Linked DNA regions of Homo sapiens. The protein of the gene in region 3 purifies or fractionates together with the protein of the main gene of each other region. This does not show direct contact. Each region holds a gene or a part of one and is shown on either strand. Other genes may lie near its edges.

Region 1 (7,024 bases), on a different chromosome or scaffold from region 3:
CTTTGTGCGGTTGACCCTTGAACAATGTTTGAACTGCATGGATCCACTTATACATGGGTTTTCTTCTGCCTCTAGCACCCCTGAGACTGCAAGACCAACCCCTCCTCTTCCTCCTCCTCAACCTACTCAGTGTGAGGATGAAGAGGATGAAGACCTTGATGATAACCTACTTCACTTAATGAATGGCAAATACATTTTCCCTTCCTTGTTATTTTCTTAATAACATCTTCTTTTCTCTAGCTTACTTGATTGTAAGAATATAATACATAAATACATACACAAAATACGTGGTAATCGACTGTTTATGTTCAGCAAGGCTTTGGTCAACAGTAGGCTATCAGTAGTTTAGTTTCTAGAGAGTCAAAAGTAATACAAGATTTTTTTAATAGAATTGTATCAGAAGGATATACACGGAATTTTTTACTGTGCTGGGGGTTGGTGCCTTAACCCCTATGTTGTTCAAGGGTCAACTGTATTTTATTTCTCTATTTTCTTTGTGTTTCTTTATAAAATCGGTAGGGCTGCAAGAGTAGGTGGTATTTTAAACAGATGGGAAAGTCAGAAAGACTAAGAGAGCTCCACTTTTCAGGCCTGGATGACTGTCAGGAAGTCACCCAGCTGTTCCCCATCATCCCCAGTGTCCTTGGGCCCACGGTTTCACAATAACGCCCAAAGCCAGGGCACTCAAGGCCCTTTATCGTCTGGCCCCAGGTCATCTTTCCAGCCAGCGCTTCAGCCCCATCTGCCTATTCCACATTGCCAGAATACCTTCCTGCTTTCCTGTCTTTGCTTACTATTTACAGCACTGGGGGAAAGGGGACTTTTGAGAGGTAAAGACCTAGGTCCAAGTCTCCCACAAGCTGTAAAACCCTGGACCCATGATCTCTCTGAACCTCAACTCCCTCATCAGTGAAGTGGGCATAACAGCACCAACTCCTGTGGCTGGCAAACAAAAAAAGGCCACAGAGCTCACAACATAGTGCCCTCACATGAAAGGCTCCCATTTCCACCTGCCCTAGCTACCCTTCAAGGGCCACTCACACGTGGCCTGTATGTGGCCTCTCCACCGAGTCCCATCGCTCTGGTTCGCTTTATGGCGTCTCCCCCACCTTTACCCTGTGATTTGTGCGAATGTCTGTTTACTTAATTACATAGGCCAAAATCAACACCTCACTCATCTCCAGAGCAGGATACAGCCTCAAACATACAAGCATTTTAATTGGTTTTTTTTATGTTTCTGGAGACAGGGTCTCACTCCATCACCCAGGCTGGAGTGCAGTGGCACAATCATGGATCACTGCAGCCTCGACCTCTTGGGCTCAAGGGGTCCTCTCGCCTCAGCCTTCGGAGTAGTTGGGACCACAGGTGCATGCTACCCACACCGGCTTTTTGTAGAGATGGGGTTTTGCTTTTTCACCCAGGTTGGTCTCAAACTCCTGGCCTCAAGTGATCTCTTGGCTCAGCCTCCCTAAGTGCAGGATTACAGATGCCAGCCACCACTCCCAGCCAAGAAGCATTTTTAGAAGTGTTGATTTCTGTAATTGAATTCAGGTCCTCTGTTCTGCTGTCAGAAGGCATTCTTTACAAAAGCCCACCTCTGAGCCATCCTTAAGGACACAGGGAGAACTCCATGGCTGGGGCACCTGCACGGCGCCTCTTCACACTCCCTCTCCCTGCCCAAAGCCTTGGGCCACTCCTCACTTGGCATTTCTTCCAGAGCACTCACAACTCTGGCACTTCCCTGGACAGTATCTAACAGCTCAGGTGGAAGAGGCCTGGACACAGCAACACCCCAGGCCCATGAGCTGAGGGCACAGTGTGGCAGGCTGGCCTTGCCCAACCCTGACCACACTGTGACCGAGGTGCTCTGTCCCTGAGGAAATAAGGTACCAGCAGTCCAGGGACATACACTTAGGACTTAAAGACTGCCTCAACTTGGCCAGGCACGGTGGCTTATGCCTGTAATCCCAGCACTTTCGGAGGCTGAGGCAGGCAGACCACTTAAGGTCAGGAGTTCGAGACCAGCCTGGCCAACACGGTAAAACCCCATCTCTACTAAAAATACAACAATTAGCCGGGCATGGTGGTGCATGCCTGTAATCCAAGCTACTCAGGAGGCCGAGGCATGGGAATCGCTCAAAGCCGGGAGGCGGAGGTTGCAGTGAGCCGAGACCGGGCCACTGTACTCCAGCCTAGGTGACAGAATGAGACTCTGTCTCAAAAAAAAAAAAAAAAAAAAAGAGATTGCCTCAACTCAGTAGGGTTGAAGAGGAAAAGGAGGACACAATATTCTCTTTAGCTAAGGGGCACAGGGCAGAGCTTCAGACCACCAGCTGCCATTTCTTGGGCCAGTCACTTAGAACACTGTAATTAGGCTTAATAAAAGACTCTATTTTAGCCCCCATTAAGAAGGTGAACACCATTCGCTAAAAGAGACCCTAACACAATAAGACAGAACAATGTAATATCAAAGCCTTTCAGTTAATCCACAATCCAGCCAGAGACAGGTTACTGAAAGGGAGACAACAGCAGCGTGATTTGGCCCATGGCACTTCAGTTCTGGCACTGGCACAGGCAGACCAGATGGCTTTACTTTCTGCGAGAACCCATTTAACCCTCACGTACCGAAAGGCACGCCCGTGGCCCCACCCGTCACAGCTTCTCCACCCAGAAACACAGAGGTTAAGGTGTGCTTAACACAGACGTTAATGTGACATTAACGAGGGTCAGATTCGGCTGACTTCCAGACCTCACCTCAAAAGACTGACCTGACCCCAGCCCTTTCGTTACCACCAAAACAAAAAAGAAAAGACCCCCCACAACTGTGATGTGTGCCATCTTGAAACAAGAAATCTCTTCCATTAACTGTTTGTTTGGGAGGAGTAAAAGTGTGTTTTATTTGTATACCCTAATAAAGGTAACAAATCTTAATCATCCTTCACTGTAGAGGAAAACCTCAACAAACTCTAAATGGGCCTCCAAAAACATTATAATCTATCCCCTGCTTATGGCATATTTAATTAAATCATAGAAAAGTATTTTGATTTATTCTTATTAAAATGCAACATTAAAGTGTACAAAATAAGAAAATAGCAACAATCACAACATGTTAATGCAATAATACAATGCATGTTAATACATGCATGTTAATACAATAATTATTTTAATTTTTGGATGGGTTTCTAGCCTTTGTCTGCACGCATGTATATCTTATATAGCTGTAATTGTGGCATATTTAACATTTCATACTGTACTTTTTTTGCTTAATATTTTCTAGATATTTCTAGCCCTTGTCTTCATAATAGTTTTCATAATTATATTTTTAACGGCTGCATAGTAACCCATTAACCTTTCACCAGGGGGGCTGTAAAGGTCGACTCTGTGCAGGAAGACATGAGCTCTCTTGCTTCGAGGCTGTGTACGAGGTCCTAGTTTGCTGCTTGGAAGGCTGCCTTCAGACTAAAACACTTTGATGACATTGAAGGTTAGCCTTGGTCCAGTGAGCACTTGCACCTGGCAGCACCCTAATATGGTGGGGGGACAGGGGTGAACTAAGGAAGGCACAGTCCTGTCCTCAAGGAACTGTAAGAGGCTCTTTGGAAATTAAGTGATTTGGCTGGACATGGTGGCTCACGCCTGTAATCCCAGTACTTTGGGAGGCTGAGGTGGGCGGATAATGAGGTCAGGATATCGAGACCATCCTGGCTAACATGGTGAAACCCTGTCTTTACTAAAAAATACAAAAAAATTAGCCGGGCGTGGTGGCGGGTGCCAGTAGTCCCAGTTACTTGGGAGGCTGAGGCAGGAGAATGGCATGAACCCGGGAAGCGGAGCTTGCAGTGAGCTGAGATTGCACCACTGCACTCCATCCTGGTAGACAGAGTGAGACTCCATCTCAAAAAAAAAAAAAAAAGAAATTAAGTGATTTGTACTTTTTTTAATTTATTTTTTTATGAGACAGGATCTCACTGTGTCACCCAGGCTGGAGTACAATGGCAGGATCAAGACTCACTGCAGCACCGACCTCCCTGGGCTCAGGTGATCCTCCCACTTCAACCTCCTGAGTAGCTGGGACTACAGACGCATGCCACCATGCCTGGCCAATTTTTGTATTTTTTGTAGAGATGGGGTTTTGCCATGTTGCCTGGACTCAAGCAATCTGCCCCCTCAGCCTCCCAAAGTGCTGGGATTACTGGCGTGAGCTGCCACGCCTGGCTCTGATTTGTACTTTTTTAAAGTTGGCAGATTTTCATATCTTTTTAAAGTCAATTTATGGCACTGAAAGTCTGATACATAAGAACCTACTAAGGATGCAGGTATCTATGTATCTCATTGCAGCCAGGACAAGTTAAAGGCTAAAAAGCTGAAGAGGAGCAGATTTCAAAACTATAAACGTACACAGAGCAACCTCCAAAATCAGTGAGCAACTGAGGTGCAGAGCAACATACGGAGGAGGCTGCTGTTTGCACAGAAAGCAAGGAAACCGTTGTAGCAGTAATTGCTTATGTACGCCTAGAATGTAAATAGAGGGCATGAAGTCGTGGGTGCTGGGCCTAGAAGGGAGGTCTTCTCACTGTCCACATGTAGTACTTTTTTTTTTTTTTGAGACAGACTCTCGCTCTGTCGCCCAAGCTAGAGTGCAGTGGCGCGATCTTGGCTCACTGCAAGCTCTGCCTCCTGGGTTCACGCCATTCTCCTGCCTCAGCCTCCCGAGTAGCTGGGACTACAGGCGCCTGCCACCACACCCGGCTAATTATTTGTATTTTTTACTAGAGATGGGGTTTCTCCGTGTTAGCCAGGATGGTCTCGATCTCCTGGCCTTGTGATCCGCCCGCCTCGGCCTCCCAAAGTGCTGGGATTACAGGTGTAAGCCACCGCACCCAGCCGCACATGTGGTACCTTTTGAACACATCACGTGTTCACTTATTCCCAGTTCCAAAAAGGGGAGCAGTGGAAACCAGACCTCTATAACACAGAATTAGCTCAAGAGAAAATATCTTACCTGCAAGAACTCTTCTCACAGAATGAAACATGGAGGTAAACACGGAGTCCTTTTTGGGATGCAGTTCTGGGGCCAAAAAGAACAGAGTCAAAAACTGCAAGGCTGCCTGAAAAGACTGATCATGTCCCGCGAGAGCTGGCAACTCCAACAGTATCTGAGAGTAAACACCCTGGTAGAGGGCAACATGGGAGAGCAGCGTCCTGTCGCTTCCTTGGGAAATGTCGGCCCCTCCATCCCTGCAGTGCTGACCCAGGTCGGCTTCCAAGAGCGTGCTGACGGATGAGATGAGGACCGAGGGAAGGCGCCAGCCCCGGGCCCCCGGCACTGAGCAGAGCTGCAGCACAGCTCCTGTCTGCAGCACAACCTGCTGCAGCAGCTCAGACAGTGCTGCTGGGGCCTCTTGGCCCAGCTTCTGCTCTTTGAGGAAAGGTCCCAGGACATGGCACAACCTGGTTAAAGACACCAGAAGGAGCTGCCTGCCCTGGGGGTTCTGATTTTCTAATTGTTTGCTTGAAGCTGCCTCCGTGTATGGTTTGGAACTAGAGAGGAATGCGGTGATTTTTCTAAAATTGAGCACCAAGCTCAGCTTCATTTGGATGAGCATCTGCATTAGCTCCTCTAAGAACGTCCCTATCACTTGGAGGAATTCCAGCCAAGCGGGATCATCCATCTCAATAAGGAACCTACTACTAGCTCTGAACAATGAGGTCAGTACAACCTCAAAAATATCACTACCATACATGATCTTGAACACAGAGCGAGCACTTTTCCCCTTTTGCAAGTAACCAAGAAGTTGGTAGCAAGTCGTCAAGAACTTGAGAGCCAGTGAGGAGGAGCAAGAGCATCCTAGTTTGGTGACGGCCATGGACAGTAACACAAGAAAATAATGCACATGATAGGGTGGCAAGAGGCTGTCCAGCTGTAAGGCAGAAATCACTTCCAAAAGCCCCAGGATGCTTTCCAACTGCTCTCCCTCCAGCTGGATAGGGAAGTCACTCTTGACCAGGGACAGTAAGTTCTGGGCAATTTCTCCTCTAGGTTCTATACCTTCGGGTCCAGCTTTTGCAAATCTGTTTTCCCAATGACCCACAACCATGTGGTCCTTTTCAAAAAGCCAGGGAAGCTGCTGACTGACAAGACCTGAGTCACGCTGGGCACCAGAACACAGAATGCTGGAGCAACTTGTGGTTACGCACGTTAAGAAAGCAGAATGAAGGGACTGCATCTCTGGAAAGAGAGGGCTATGAAGGAAGGCTTTGGATATTTTTTCCAGTGTGATGTATGCCTCTTCATCTATTGAGACTTCCTGGGCTTTGCCCATGGGTAAAGTTCTCAGCAGGACACTGGCCAGGTATCCCACATCATCTGGACACAGATAGGATATTAAAATTGTGAGATTTGACACAATCAAGTGCCAGTGTGCTACAGGGTATGTGAGTCCACTCACCATCCCAACTTGGCCATCCCAGGAAGCCGTCGTTCTCTGATTCAAGCTTTTTCTGCCGGAACCAATAATAAAGGCAGCATCGCACCTCAAACTTTGGATGGCTCCTTCAGACCGGAAACTAGTTTGCATTAAAGTCCTTTTCATTTTCTGCAGGTACAGCTGTTCTAAGCAATATGTACCAAGAGAGCTGAACTGAGCTGTAAACTTCTCTATCTTCTTCCAATGCTGTGTTTTTACACCTGGGAGCAACGAAGGGAGGTTCGAGATCTCCAGAGCAACACCTATAAGGGGCCCAGACATAGAGTGATACTGGCTACAGTTCAAACTGAACATAGCGTCCACCTGGGCCCAAGTGTAAGAGAGCAGGAGCACAGAGTCACTGACCTTCTGCAGCCACAGCTCTGGCTCTGGGCCTGGGGTGTCCGGGAGAAGGGCCAGCAGGGGCTGCACGAGCTCCCTCATCATCCTCTCCATCATGCACTGTGTCCGTCTGACAATGGGCAGAGGCGTGCTGCTGTCCAGGCTCCTCATGTTGAACATGATGCAGTGCAGCAGCAAGCTCAGTGACAGTGATT
Region 2 (7,024 bases), on a different chromosome or scaffold from region 3:
CAGGATTTTCTATTTACTCTGAAACTTCACAGTGCTATGCCTTGATGTGGATCTTTTTCATTCATTACACTTGACACTCTGCTGTGCCTTTCAATCTAAAGATTGAAGTTCTGGAATAGCCACTATATTAGTCCATTTTCACACTCTATAAATAACTGCCCAAGACTGGGTAATTTATAAAGGAAAGTGTTTAATTGACTGAAGAGTTCAGCATGGCCAGGGAGGCCTCAAGAAACTTACAATCATGGGGGAACGCAAAGGGGAAGCAAAGCACCTTCTTCACAAGGCTTCAGGAGAAAGAGTGAGGAGTTAAAGGGGCAGAGCCCTTTATAAAACCATCAGATCTTGTGAGAACTCACCCACTATCAGGAGAACATCGTAGGGGAAACCACCCCCATGATCCAATCACCTCCCACCAGGTCTCTCCCTAGACACATGGGGATTATGGGGATTACAATTCGAGATGAAATTTGGGTGAGGACACAGACAAACCATACCAGCCATTTATGTTATTTCTAATAACCCACTGCCCCCATTTCTTTTTTAACTTTTTTCACTTTCTAAAACTGTTAGTCTGGTTTTGACCCCTGTATTTATCTTCTGTGGCTTTCATCTTTTCTCTTTGTCTCTTTCAGTTCTACTTTCAGGAATATTTTCTCACCTACATCTTCCAACACTATTAATTACTTTTGAATTTTAAATATTTTTAATTTTAAAAAGCCCTATTGTTTTAATAGTTTCACTTCCAATTGTTTTATGAATGCGATTTCTCCAGATATCTTTCAAACTAATTTTTTTATTCACTAGATAGCACTGTCTTATATTTTAAAGATTCTGAAAAACACAATTTTTAACGCTTATGTAGTCCGCCATCAAAACATCAATGTACTGAAGATTTTAAGCAGCATGAGGCACCATCACGTTTTTGTTTCTTCCCCCTCATTTCCCCGCCCCTACCAGATCTGTTTTTGATGTTTAGCCTAGAAGTAGCAAGAAGGATGAACTGAAGCAGATTAGAGATCGAGCTGGTAATCCAGATGAGAAATAATGAAAGTCTTCTCTAGGGTAATAGTGGTGAGGTAAAGGCAAAAGGATAGCTGACAGACGTTAGGAGGTGAAATGGCACAGGACTTGGTGAAAAACTGGTTAGGAGAAGAGGAAAGAGAAAAGCCCAGGTTATCCTCAGATTTATGGTTTGGACAACAGGAAGAATAGCAATTTCTCCAAGTCGAGTCCTATTATAAATATTTTCATTTTTGTATTTCACTTTGAGTCTCAATTTACCAAGATAACTTCCTTTCAATCAGCAAAACACCTGTTTACTACTTACTAACAATATTAAAGATGCAAATATTTACGAAACATATTTTTCTCACTTTACATAGATGCCTATCATTTCATTTGTAAAAAAGGTTAATTCTATTTACTCATTAAAATACTTACATTTAAATACTCCAGCATAATACATTAGGTGTATTAAACATATAGATGCTCCTCAGATGAAGAATATAGTCTAATCTGGTTTTATACACAATAAAGACAATTTAAAATGTAAAAAACTGGGCTTAAAAAATGCAGCCAACCACCTGTTTTATTAAGTTTTACCAAGTATTTCCTTCTAAAAAGTCCTTATCGGAGCTATTTCTTTAAAGCCAACATTTACTACATTAACAGATGGGTTCTTTAAATAAGAAATTTTACTTTCAACTCACTGATTTTATACTTAGAGGCTTTAAAATTTTTTAGAATATGTGAAGACCGGAATTAAACCATTCTCACCATATTTTTCCAGGACTGTTTGCTAACTGGCTTGTTTTTACATAAAGCTTTAAACATGTCTACCATGGGTAGTAAACAAGAAGGACTATTTGAAACTATAAAACCTACCAAACAAAGTGCCAAATGCATTATCACTGCTTTTTCCTTCTTTTATAAGAATCATTACTATGAACTCGTACTCGTTGGTGCACAGAGGATGCTATTTTCATACTCTCTTTCTTTGTAAAGGTCTTCTCTATAGCTCCAGGTTTCCAAAGTAACAACTGTGCATCTTCTCCTCCAGTCAACAAAGAATCATCTTGCACATTCCAACAGAAAGAACGGACTGTAGCAGCATGCCCTCCCTGAAGGCTAGTCACATGGGTCAGTCCTGACATGCTGCAGTTCATCAAATGAATCCTTCCTTTGTTTGTTCCTCCAATAACATGCAATGTGTCTGTCTTTTCATGATATAGGCCACCAATCAAATAGTCCAAAGCATCTTCTTTCATGTTAACTACTTCTCTGACATCCTGGATGTTCAAACGTGTAACTGGTTCATCAGTGTCCAGATGATTAAGATCCCACCAATAAAATCCTTCATCATGTGTCATGCAGTAAATCTGTTTATAACCTTTCCCAGACCAACCAATACAGCTTACTGATGAAATTGAGTTACAGGTTGTAACCAGTGCATCCTCCTCATTATCAATATTAATATCAAATACATTTACCAGGCCATCAGATGAACCTGAGACTACCATGTTGGGATTGCTGGGATGGAAACGTACTTGAGTGACATCATCACTATGTGTCTCTGAATATGCACCAAGTGAGTCTTTAGTTGTAGATAAATTCTGAGAATTCATCCTTGCATCCCAAAACACCAACAATGCATCATCATCAACTTTTTCTGTACCAGCACAAATAATATGATCATTACAATTAATATCAAAACTGATAAAAATATTGGAAGGGTAACCCTTGAAGAGCTGAACAGGTTTTTCTCTGGCTACTCGAGCATCCCAGCATTTCACAGTGCCATCAGTACATGCTGAATATACACTGTCACAGGAATTTGCAAATCTGACTCCATTAAGAAGTCCAGGATATCCACTAAATTCTCGTAGTACATTTAACCTTTCTTTATCATATATTCTGATTGATCCATTAGAACATAAAACAGCAACCAAGTTTTCCTTTCCTGCTTGGACAGTCTTTGATGTGTCTATACCAAGAAGGTAAGTGGGCTCTTTGGTTCCTAAGGAACATTTAACAATGTGCAGATTAGCAAATTGTTCCTCAATCTTTTCCATGTCAACAGCAGCATCCAAGGGTAGTAAAACTCTGTAAAAAATAATAATAATAAAAATAAAAATTAATGCTTAACAAGGGAGACACATAAAAAAATTTAACTTGAAGTTTCTCTAAAATTGCAATTAAATCAAGAACATTTTCCTCTGAGGGCTGGCATGAATCAATCAATCAACAGAAATGTATTCTAATACTATAATCATTTCCTTCCTATGATGTAACTAAAACTCAGTTGCCTTCTAATTCAATCACTCTTTAATACTGAATTCACTACCAGGAGTGGTGGCTCACACCTGTAATCTCAGCACTTTGGGAGGCTGAGGTAGGAGGACTGCTTGAGGCCAGGCATTAGAGACCAGCCTGAGCAACATGGGGAGACCCCCCCGCCGTCTCTTCAAAAAATAAATTAGCAGGGCATGGTGGCCTATGCCTGTAGTCCTAGCTACTCAGGAGGCTGAGGTAGGAGGACTGCTTGAGACCAGAAGTTGAGACTACAGTGATCCATGATCATGTCACTGTCATACAGCCTGGGGAATAAAGTGAGATCCTGCCTCAAAAAAGAAAAAAAAAATGCTGAATTTACTATATATATTTTATGCTAGTAAGAGAATAAAAAACATGTACATACGCCACCCAGTAGTTCCTTTTAGCTCAAACCCAATTACTGGTTCTACTCAAGTCATCTTCAGGATTGGCAAGGATCTCCACTTTGGAATAATCTTCTCCTGGCCCCAGCTGCCTTACACAACTTTAGAATTTAAACATAGATATGTAGGCAAAAAAAAAAAAAAAAAAAAAAAAAAAAAAAAAAAAAGGTTTCCCAAAAATATTCATGCCTTAATCCCTGGAATCTGTGAATATGTTAGGTTACAAAGGAAAACTGAAGTTGTACATGGAATTAAGGTTGCTTATCAGCCTAATATAAGGCTAACCTTAAAATAGGGAGATTATCCTAGATTATCTGTTATCACCGTGGCCCAATATGGTAACAACTGTCTTCAAAAGTGGAAGAGGGAGGCAGAAGAGTCAGAGGAAGAGGTTCCCATAGAAGAAAGGCAAAGACACAGAGAGATACAATGTTGCTGGTTTTGAAGACAGAGGCTGAGAGTGGCCTCTAGAAACTAAAAAGCAAGAAAAGATTGTCCTCTAAGCCTCCAAATGGAAATGCAGCCCTGTTGACATCTTAATTTTAGCCCAGTGACATCCATTTTGGACTTCAGACCTCCAGAACCGTTAAGATAATAAACTTAATGTTATTTCAAACAACTAAGTTTGCAGTAATTTGTTATAGCAGCAATAGGAAACGAATACAACAGAGGTTCCCAGTATAGAATCCTGGAGAAGTCCTTCTAAGGCAGTAGCAGCTTGTGATAGTAGAACTGGGATTTGAACCTAGGCATTCTGGCTTCAGGCTTCACGGACTGTGCTCTAAACCACCATACTAGATTGCCTCTCCAGGGTGGGCTGTATGTAGGACAAGTTCAAGGCCAGAAAAACATGCATGCCTAGTAACACTATAATAAATTCTTGACACTAGAGCAGAGTACGAGTCTGAGGTGGAGGGAGTCATGGCAGGACAAGCGTTTAAGTTTCTTCCACTCTTTGACCGAGTATTGGTTGAAAGGAGTGCTGTTGAAACTGTAACCAAAGGAGGCATTATGCTTCCAGAAAAATCTCAAGGAAAAGTATTGCAAGCAACAGTAGTCGCTGTTGGATCGGGTTCTAAAGGAAAGGGTGGAGAGATTCAACCAGTTCGTGTGAAAGTTGGAGATAAAGTTCTTCTCCCATAACATGGAGGCACCAAAGTAGTTCTAGATGACAAGGATTATTTCCTATTTAGAGATGGTGACGTTCTTGGAAAGTACGTAAACTGAAATAAGTCACTATTGAAATGGCATCAACATGAAGCTGCCCATTCCACCGAAGTTCTGAAATCTTTCATCATGTAAATAATTTCCATATTTCTCTTTTATAATAAACTAAATAACTAATGAAAAAAATAAAATAAATTCTTCTATTGTGCTTTCTCATCAGTGAATATTCTTTCTAGCCTGTCTAACAAATTCATTTTCATTCTTAAGATGAAATGTTTTTTCTGTTGCTTTAGTGATATCTTCTTAAGCATCTGTCTTTTCATCTTTAAAAGGGGAAATGAGTACTAACTCAAGAACTGTTAGGAGGATTAACTAATGCATGCCATGTGTTCTGCACAATGTATGGCATATCATAGTACCTACACAATAGATGTAATAGGTCAGGCATGGTGGCTCATGCCTGTAATCCCAACACTTCTGGAGGCCGAGGCAGCGATCACTGAGGTCAGGAGTTCGAGACCAGTCTGGTCAACATGGTAAAACCCCGTCTCTACTAAAAATACAAAAATTAGTTTGGTGTTGTGGTGCACACCTGTAATCCAGCTACTCGGGAGGCTGAGGCAGGAGAACTGCTTGAGGTAGAGGTTGCAATGAGCCAAGGTCTTGCCACTGCACTCCAGCCTGAACAACAGAGTGAGATTCCTACTCAAAAAAAAAAAAAAAAAAAAAAAAAGATGGCTGGACATGGTAGCTCACGCCTGTAATCCCAGCACTTTGGGAGGCCAAGGCGGGCAGATCACCTGAGGTCGGGAGATTGAGACCAGTCTGACCGACATGGAAAAACCCCGTCTCTATTAAAAATACAAAATTAGCCAGGCGTGGTGGCACATGCCTGTAATCCCAGCTACTCGGGAGGCTGAGGCAGGAGAATCGCTTGAACCCAGGAGGAGGAGGTTGCGGTGAGCCGAGATCGCGCCGTTGCACTCCATCCTGGGCAACAAGAGTGAAACTCCATCTCAAAAAAAAAAAAAAAGATGTAATATAAAAATTACCAGTATCACCATATAAGGGAGAATTTGGATCTATCAGAGAGCTCCAAATAGCACAATTACATCAAACAGCAAAAAATATTAGTAAGTTGGATTTGGGTTTTTTAAAATTTATTTTATTTTTTTGTATTTTTAGTGGAGATGGGGTTTCACCGTGTTAGCCAGGATGGTCTCGACCTCCTGACCTCGTGATCCGCCTGCCTCGGCCTCCCAAAGTGCTGGGATTACAGGCGTGAGCCACCACGCCCAGCCTGGATTTGGGTTTAAAATAGAAATAAGCATTCCCTCCAACTTTTAATTTTCAACATTTATTTTTACTTATTTTTCCTTTGGAGATGGCATCACAGCTCATTAATTTTCAACATTTATAAGTGCGCACACACAAAAAGTTCTAATGCACACACACAGTTCACCTTCTAGGTTCACTGTTAACTTCTTGCCACATTTGCTTTCTCTCTCTACACACACACACACACACACACCCCACTGCTTTTTAAAAATGAACCTTTTGATGAGAGTTAGCTGCAGACAAAGTATCACTCCATTCCTAAATACTTCACTATAACAGCATCTCTCCAACCTTCTGTTTTTCATGTCATGGAATTTTTTGAATATCCTATTCTTCAACAACTTTCATCCAAAGAGTTCAGGATCTATTAATTGTCCTTGCCTAAATCAATGATTATGCTAGAATCTGTAAAACAGTCCTTTTCTATCATTCTTTCTACCTTAGCAGGCATTCTTCTATAAACAAGAGCTTTTTTCCTTTCTCTGCTTCTTTGACTAGGAAATCACAATTCTTAAAAACTGTGTATCATAATCTATCGCTTTGTTGCTTTTTGATGCTCAAAGTGTCTGGACTTGGCCATTAAGACCCTTTAAGCCAGCTTCTGAAGCCTTCTGATAGGACCCCATCAGTCTGTAAGCCCCACATGAGAAACTCCGTGGAAGCATTAGGTAGCTCTAAAAATGGTGTTCTTCCTTCAACTTAAGTATTCAGACATGAAATGACCATTTTCCAGTAACGCTGGGGTAGTCACCTCCACAGCTGCTGAGGTAGCTAGCACAGTACAACTGTTCTGTGGTTTT
Region 3 (7,550 bases):
AGAATTTTGTAGGTGGTAGATACTGTACTAAGTACAAATTTATCTTTTCTTTTTGAGACAGAGTGTCCTTCTGTCGCCCAGGCTGGAGTGCAGTGGCACTATCTTGGCTCACTGCAACCTCTGCCTCCCTGGTGATTCTCCTGTCTCAGCCTCCCAAGTAGCTGGGATTACAGGTGTCTGCCACCACACCCAGCTAATTGTGGTATTTTTAGTAAAGATGGGGTTTCACCATGTTGGCCAGGCTGGTCTCAAACTCCTGACCTCAAGTGATCCACCTGCCTTAGCCTCCCAAAGTATTGCAAATGTATCATTTAATTTAATTCTCACAGAAATATTATGAGGCAAGCACTATCTTTTGTCATTCATCACATAAGCAAACTTGGGCTGAGAAGTTTAAGTAACTTGCCACAGGTCACAAAGCCTAGTTGATGTATTCTTAACCACAACTTCACATTTATCACATATATTCCTCAATGTAAAATAGAATAAAGCAATCTTTTCGCAAATGAAATTACAAAAGACTGATTGCCCTCTTCCTCTATTAGCGTGTTCCCTTTACTTATTTTCCGTGTCTTTTTTCACTTTTTGGCCTCCAAATAACTAGAATATGTTACTGTGTCAGCGGCAGTATGGATTATCTCCCATTCTTCATTGAAGGCCACTGTTTGCCCTTGACTTTACTAAACTTATCAACAAGAGATTTCACAATTTCAAGGATACGGTCTTACAAGGGTGTATTTTAAAGCCCCCTCAAGAGTGTTTAGTGACAAGGATTAGCTGTCAAAGAAATGATCAGACTGAGGGGGAATGTGGCATGATATTCAGTGGGATATATGTAACAGGCAGTTTCTATGAAAGTTTGGTCCCTTGTCCAAAATATTTGAGAATAGCAGTTTTAAGTAAACCCACCAGTAAAGTGCTACCATGTCTGCTGATGCCAAATGGAATGGACCTAAACCTGCTGAGTTATACGATACTGGAATTCTCTTCATCACTGCTGTCCCTCTGGATAACGTGAAAAATGGCTGTGGAGGTTTAGATTTAGAACCAGTTATTCCAAGTTACAGAGTCATACAAACTGGCAAACAGTATAGAAAATATATGATGATCTTACATTTTTTCAGGTCCGCTTCTGCTACACTGATGTTGATATATGCAAAAACTTTCTGTGGGTTTCCTAAAAAACAAACAAACAAACAAACAAAACAATTTATTTAAATTCTTATCCAGAGAGCAATGTAAAAACGGTTGTTTCTAAATTAAAAAAAAAAATAGCTCTTGAAAACTTATTATTTCAAAGATAAACCTTGTTTTTTATTGGCTATAAAAATAAGCATAATTATCAAAATATTCCAAAAAAAAAAAGAAGAAAATGTCCAGTAGTCAGATAAGGAAACATTTTGATTGTATGCTAGTGATAGTCTACTTAACGGGACACTTAATCCATGTTAGAAAATTCTAGTTCTCAAAACTGGAAGTTAATATGTTTCTGAAATCAGATGTTTTAGAATTTGGAATTTTTTCTTATTTCAGAAACAAATTCTGGTCAAGTTCCACATCACACATTATACCTCCACAACATCACTTAAAACTTTTGGTGTTCAGAGCTAACATTTATCTTGGGGTTGTTTTATTTTCTAGCACTTAACCTGAGTTATGTCTGCCTATAACTGCCCAGTGAAGGACCATAAATTACCTTGGTCATCTTTCCGTGTGATGATCTCCACATCCGAAACTTCTCCAAATCTGCTGAACTGATTTTGTAGGTCTGCCTCAGAAATGTCCTGGCTAAGGCCACCCACATAAAGGCGCTTCGTTTCTCTGTTCACTTTCATGAAGGCTGGGCATATACTTGGGTGTGTTTCAGTGGGAAAAGTAATTTTCTGTATACAGAGAAGAGTTCTTTCCCTTAGTTCTTCTAAAATCTAACAAAACAACTACTTCCTCTGAACCTTCTGTATCAAATCCGTCTCCTGGATCTGTATTTCACTTCCTATTGTATTACTTCCAAATTTTAGTCTTCGAGGTTTTGCCCAAGCCCTACATCCACATCTTTCATGAATGCACTTTGGAACAGCAACCCCATACCCATATAGACACAGGTACAGACAGAGTTTTTTTCCTCCAAATGGCCATAATATTACACTCTATCCCTCTTAATTTTATGTATTCATGTTTTTAGATGTTTTTCCTTGACTCACTCATACATTCATTTACTGTCTTTAACAAAGTCTGACAGAAACAGGATGTAACGCACTAAAAGATAAAAAGAGCTAGCCTACCTCTTCCTAATTGTCTCCACCCCCAACCTACCCACCCCAGCCTTCTTCCTCCTAGAAGACCCAAAGAAGTGAATAGAGAGGCTAGGAGCTCCTTATAGTCACAAAAGAATAAAACAAATGGCACAATATTATGTCACAATAAAAGTGCTGCAAAGTGGGGTTCAGACACAAAGATCAAGGGATATAGCGAATACAGACTTGTGTTTTTGCTATGTGCCTGCATTGTACAAAGTAGTTTGCATGTTTCCCATTTTTCAGGAGAGCAGAAGAGGTTAAGTCACTTCCTCAATGCCATACCGAAAATTAGTGAATCCAGGATTATAATGCAGGTCTACCTTCAGAACTTGGAATTCTTAACACTATACTATGAAGGTTGCTGTATCACAGGGGACTCAGGAAAACTTTTCCAGAGGTACTAGGGCCCATCATAGTATCTCTCATTTCGTTTAGCACCCGGCAGGCGCTCAGCTCTCGCCCTTCCCTTCCCCAAGAGCTGACAGACTCTTTCCAGAAGAGACTCCCAACCAGCGTCCACCACATGGCGTGTATTCTGGGCAGAACTTCGGCCTACCTCTTCCCGATAGTCTCCGCCCCCAGCCTACCCACGGCAGCCTTCTTTCTCTGAGAAGACCCAAAGAAGTGAAGAGAGACTAGGAAACGGCCCTGTGACTTCTCATGCCCGAAACCCACTCCTCACCACGTCGTTCACCTAAAGCCAGCGCCGCTGCAGCCCCTAACTTCTGGTCACGTGTCCCAACGGAGCATCCTCTCTTCCTTCCTACTCGATTTCCAACCCAGCCTCCTAAGGTTCCGTTACCACAATTCAGTTCCCAAGAGCTTTTAATTTCCTTTTCCGTCCTCCCACCTTCCCTGACGCCTCCGTCACCTCCCCCTCAACGACTGCAAAAGAGCCTAAACCAAAATCCCCTAGTTTCTATTGAACACTATCGCTGTGTGTACCAATTCCTGGACTAGGTCGGCGTAAGAGAGGAAGTAGGTGAAAAAAATAAAGAGGCGCTCCCCTCCACGTGATCCCAGCCCTGCCTCTTTAGTGAGGCACGCGGCCGGGCGGCTCCAAGGCTGCCGGCTAGGGTGAGCAGCGGAGCGCTTGGGCTTGGAGTAGCAAAGAACGCGCTCTCCAGAGAAAGTATAGCCACTGCTTAGACAGCCAGGGAAACGTGTGCGGGGAAGTGGAGGACTCAGGCTCTCGTGCGAGAGCGGAGTTGGACGTGCAGGGCCGCTGGGGTCACGCGGAGCTCTCCCGCCTCCCCTCCGCGTGAGCTCTGGGATGGTCCGCGCCGGGAGCGCGCGCGAGGCTTGAAGCGCGGGTGAAGCGCGCAGGTCGGAGTGACAGCTGCGCTGCCGGCCCGGCTGCGGTCAGCAACGCGCCATGGACGCAGAGCTGGCAGAGGTGCGCGCCTTGCAAGCTGAGATCGCGGCCCTGCGGCGAGCGTGTGAGGACCCACCGGCGCCCTGGGAAGAGAAGTCCCGAGTCCAGTACGTGACCACCCCAAGTCCCCCAGGGCCCGCTGGCCAGGGTTCCCGGGCCAGGCGGGTGAATCTCCACAGACATCCTCGGTCTCCTACTCCCAGCCCTAGAAAGTGGGCATGAACTGGCATTGATCCTGTCATGACGATGGCCTAGAGTTGGGAGCAGCGCGTACGGCGCCCAGCTGTAAACGCATTGCAGGGTATTAACTCGTTTAATCGCAGTCGTCTGTGTGGATGACTGACAAGGAGGAAGTCTTGACTATATCCCTAGCTAGATAATTCCGCCTCCAGTATGCAGAAGTATCTCTAGTTGGGATTTAATAACTCCGTTTGGTTTCATGGCATTTGTTTTGGTAGGTCAGCTAACCATCTCAACTGATAATGACTTTGTGTTTACGATGACATAAAAATTCCTTTGAAAAATAACTTCGGTAAAAAACTAAGTTGATAAAAGAAAAGTAGTTAATATAGACTGCAGGAGAATTTGACATTCCTCTGAGGTAGGTGCTACTGTTAGCCCTGTTTTATAGTTGAAGAAACTGAGGCTCAGAGAAGTTAGGTAGCTTGTCCAAGGTTCCAGAGAAAGGAATTGTCAGAGATGGATTGGGACCCAAAAATTTTACTCCAAAGTCTGGGCACTTTTGGTTTATTGAAGGAGAGGGAGAGAAAAGCTCTGCAACCGTAATTATGTATTATCATCTCAAACATAGAAGCCTCTCGAAAACATAAACTGTCTTCAATTTTTGAGTCAAGAGTAATTTGACATAGGTGCAGAAAGAATGGGATTTTTCCTGAGCTAACTGGAGAAGAATTGGTAGAAAATGGGAAGGAGGAGATCTACAGAAAATGTCTGCGTGCGGTCATGAAAGTAGAGGAAGCTGTGACTGGTTAAAGGGAGAGGAAAAAGGTGTGCTCCTCCACAAATGAGAGTAAATGTATTAAAGACCCTTGCTATTTGAGGTGTGCTCCACAGATGGGACGCTTTAGCATTACCTGGCGGTTTGTTAGAGCGACATCCTGACCTACTGAATCAGAATCTGCATTTTAAAAAAATACACTGCCCTAACAGAGGATTTGTGTGCACACTTGGAAGTTTAAGAACCAGGGAAAAATAGTTTCTTTACTGGCCACAAGATTTCATTAGTCCCCATAGTAGTGTCAACTGAAAAATCATGAGATCTGCAAATTTAGAGAGACTATTTCTTAAAAAGGGTTACAGTCTGCAAAGTGGCCATCCTGACAGGCTAGGAAGCATAGTCTCAGGCAAAGCAGAAAGGCCCACACTTTGGAGGAGGAGGGGTTGGGGCAGGGATTTATGCTGTATGAGTGGGCTAGGTATACATATTCAACAGGTTATAGGAGGGGCTATGAATATTCACGAAGGGAGATGTGCTCACCTGTACTGAATAAAAATGCATATTACATGCACTCCATATTCATTTTGGGAAGCTGACTTAATATTTAAATGCATTACAATTAGGCCCTGTACGTCAAAAGTTGAAGGAGGGAAGCAAAGGTACTTAAGTACACAGGCCTTGTAAACCTGTTAGAACAAGTCCATGGTTGGTGATCTTATCAAAAGAAAATTTTTGAAATCATTCTCTTGTCCTATCAAAGCCTGTGGAACAGGGGAATCAGTTAGCATCTGGTGGTGGATGAACTGCAATTATTTCAATATTGCTTATCTGGAGGCCAGTGCTAGTGAAAAAAATATTGTGGCAGTTAGAACATAGTTCATTCTTTTAAAGGTAGGGGGTATGTGACTTAACCCTTGCCTGGCATGGCCTTAGGTCTTGTTTATAATTTGGTATCTTATTGCCACAGAGTCCGTTCTGCAACTCTTACGATCTCTATTTTAACATTAATGCTGGTCAGTTGTTGTGTCTACATCCCAAATAGGAAGGGGTATAACGAGGTGTGTCTGACCTCCCATCCTGTCATGGTTAAGAACTGAGTTTTTAAGGTTTCTTTGGGGTCCCCTTGACCAAGAGGGAGTCGGTTCAGGTGATTGTGGGGGTGGGGTAGGATTTTATTTTTAGTTCTTAGTAGATTATTTATATAATCTGGGACTTCTCAGTGGTTAAATTGGAAAGTCAGAAGAGTCCAGATTGTGGGAGACATTAAATGTCAGTCCAGGGTGTTTGGATTTAACCGTGAGGTTTCTTTTCACTATAGTGGAGGAGGAGGATTGGAACCTATGTACCAAGCTATTTTTTTAAGTGATTATAAGTGGTTGGATGGATTGGAGGTAGGAAAATTGGAGCTAAATTATTCAGCTATATCCATATGTCCACACTGTGGAGCCAAATTGCCTGCTTTCAAATCCTGTCTCTGCTATTGGCTGAGTGATCTTGGTTAAGTGAGCTCCCCCTTTCTGTGCTTCAGTTTCCTCCGTGGTAAAATTATACCCAAGTTTTTGGGTTGCTGTGAGGACTAATTGAGTTAATATATGTAGTTCATTTAGAAGAGTACTTGCCTCATAATAGTAACTAACACTCATTAGTAGACCATTGACCTTTAAACTCGTGTACAGATTGATTTTAAAGGAAAAAAAATTCTTGCAAGCTCCTAATTCTGACAAAAAATTTTTATGTTATGAGGACAAACTTACAAATAATAAAACCACAAAGTGAATAAAATTCAAACAAATCCAAAATAGCTCAAACTAACATCATTAGTTGAAATACACAAATATTTTGCTCAAACTAAATAACTGCTATGAATAAGAATATGCAGATTTTCTTTTTGTGGCAAAATATACATAAGATTTACTATTTTAACCATTTTTGAGCGTTCAGCTCAATGGCATTAAACACATGCACATTGTTGTACAGCCATCACCACTGTCCATCTTCAGAACTTTTTCATCACCCCTAAACTGAAACACCATACCTATTAAACACGAACTCCCTACTAGCCACTCTGACAACTGCAGGTTCTTTTTTGAGTTCTGCATATCCAGCCTTTAATGATGACTTGGTTCTCTTACCACTTTGCTCTATCGGAAATACCTTGAAATTTTCCTTCATAGTTTGCTGTGACATTTGGTGTTCACTTGTCAGAAGCTCATTTATATTTATGGCTTTTTTTTTTTTTTTTTTTGAGACGGAGTTTCGCTCTTGTCGCCCAGGCTGGAGTGTGGTGGCGCAACCTCAGCTCACTGCAACCTCCGCCCCCTGGGTTCAAGGGAGTCTCCTGCCTCAGCCTCCCGAGTAACTGGGATTACAGGCACCCGCCACCATGCCCAGCTAATTTTTTGTATTTTTACTAGAGATGGGGTTTCGCCATGTTGGGCAGTCTGGTCTCGAACTCTTGACCTCAGGTGATCTGCCCACCTCGGCATCCCAAACTTCTGGGATTACGTGAGCCACCGTGCCCGGCCGCACATCATTTATATATGAAGATTGTCTCTGTTCTTTTTTCTTTTTCTTTTTCTTTTTTGTTTTGTTTTTTGAGAGAGGGTCTCACTCTGTTGCCCATGCTGAAGTGCAGTGGCATGATTATGACTCACTGCAACCTTCACCCACCTCCCATGCTCAAGCAATCGTCCTGCCTCAGCGACCCTCCACCAGCCAAGTAGTTGGGACTGAAGGCATGGCACCTGCCACTATGCCCAGATAATTTTGTGTGTGTGTGTGTGTGTGTATTTTTTGGTAGACATGGGGTTTTACCATGTTGGCCCGACTGGTCTTGAACTCCTGGGCTGCCTCAGGATTACAGGAGTGAGTCGCTGTGCCCAATCTGTTCTTTTTTCCTTGACTTCTATATTTAATGTAA

What was found.
Region 1: the proteins of NOL8 (region 3) and URB2 purify together in Homo sapiens (affinity purification with mass spectrometry; 2 studies listed by BioGRID and IntAct, with this or other methods). This does not show direct contact.
Region 2: the proteins of NOL8 (region 3) and WDR89 purify together in Homo sapiens (affinity purification with mass spectrometry; 2 studies listed by BioGRID and IntAct, with this or other methods). This does not show direct contact.

Annotation. Positions count from the first base shown.
Region 1 is NC_000001.11:229,636,226-229,643,249, reverse strand, and holds part of URB2 (unhealthy ribosome biogenesis protein 2 homolog), read right to left. Parts: coding exon 5,003-7,024; intron 1-5,002. UniProt on the Homo sapiens protein: Essential for hematopietic stem cell development through the regulation of p53/TP53 pathway.
Region 2 is NC_000014.9:63,596,869-63,603,892, forward strand, and holds the end of WDR89 (WD repeat-containing protein 89), read right to left. Parts: intron 5,440-7,024; exon of another isoform or gene 5,310-5,439; intron 5,067-5,309; exon of another isoform or gene 4,603-5,066; intron 3,106-4,602; coding exon of another isoform or gene 3,075-3,105; coding exon 1,911-3,074; 3' UTR 171-1,910; downstream 1-170.
Region 3 is NC_000009.12:92,322,327-92,329,876, forward strand, and holds the start of NOL8 (nucleolar protein 8), read right to left. Parts: upstream 3,025-7,550; 5' UTR 2,980-3,024; exon of another isoform or gene 2,854-2,979; intron 1,884-2,853; 5' UTR 1,836-1,883; coding exon 1,697-1,835; intron 1,178-1,696; coding exon 1,115-1,177; intron 1,026-1,114; exon of another isoform or gene 910-1,025; intron 1-909. Other genes in the region: CENPP (centromere protein P), read left to right, coding at 3,673-3,779. UniProt on the Homo sapiens protein: Plays an essential role in the survival of diffuse-type gastric cancer cells. Acts as a nucleolar anchoring protein for DDX47. May be involved in regulation of gene expression at the post-transcriptional level or in ribosome biogenesis in cancer cells.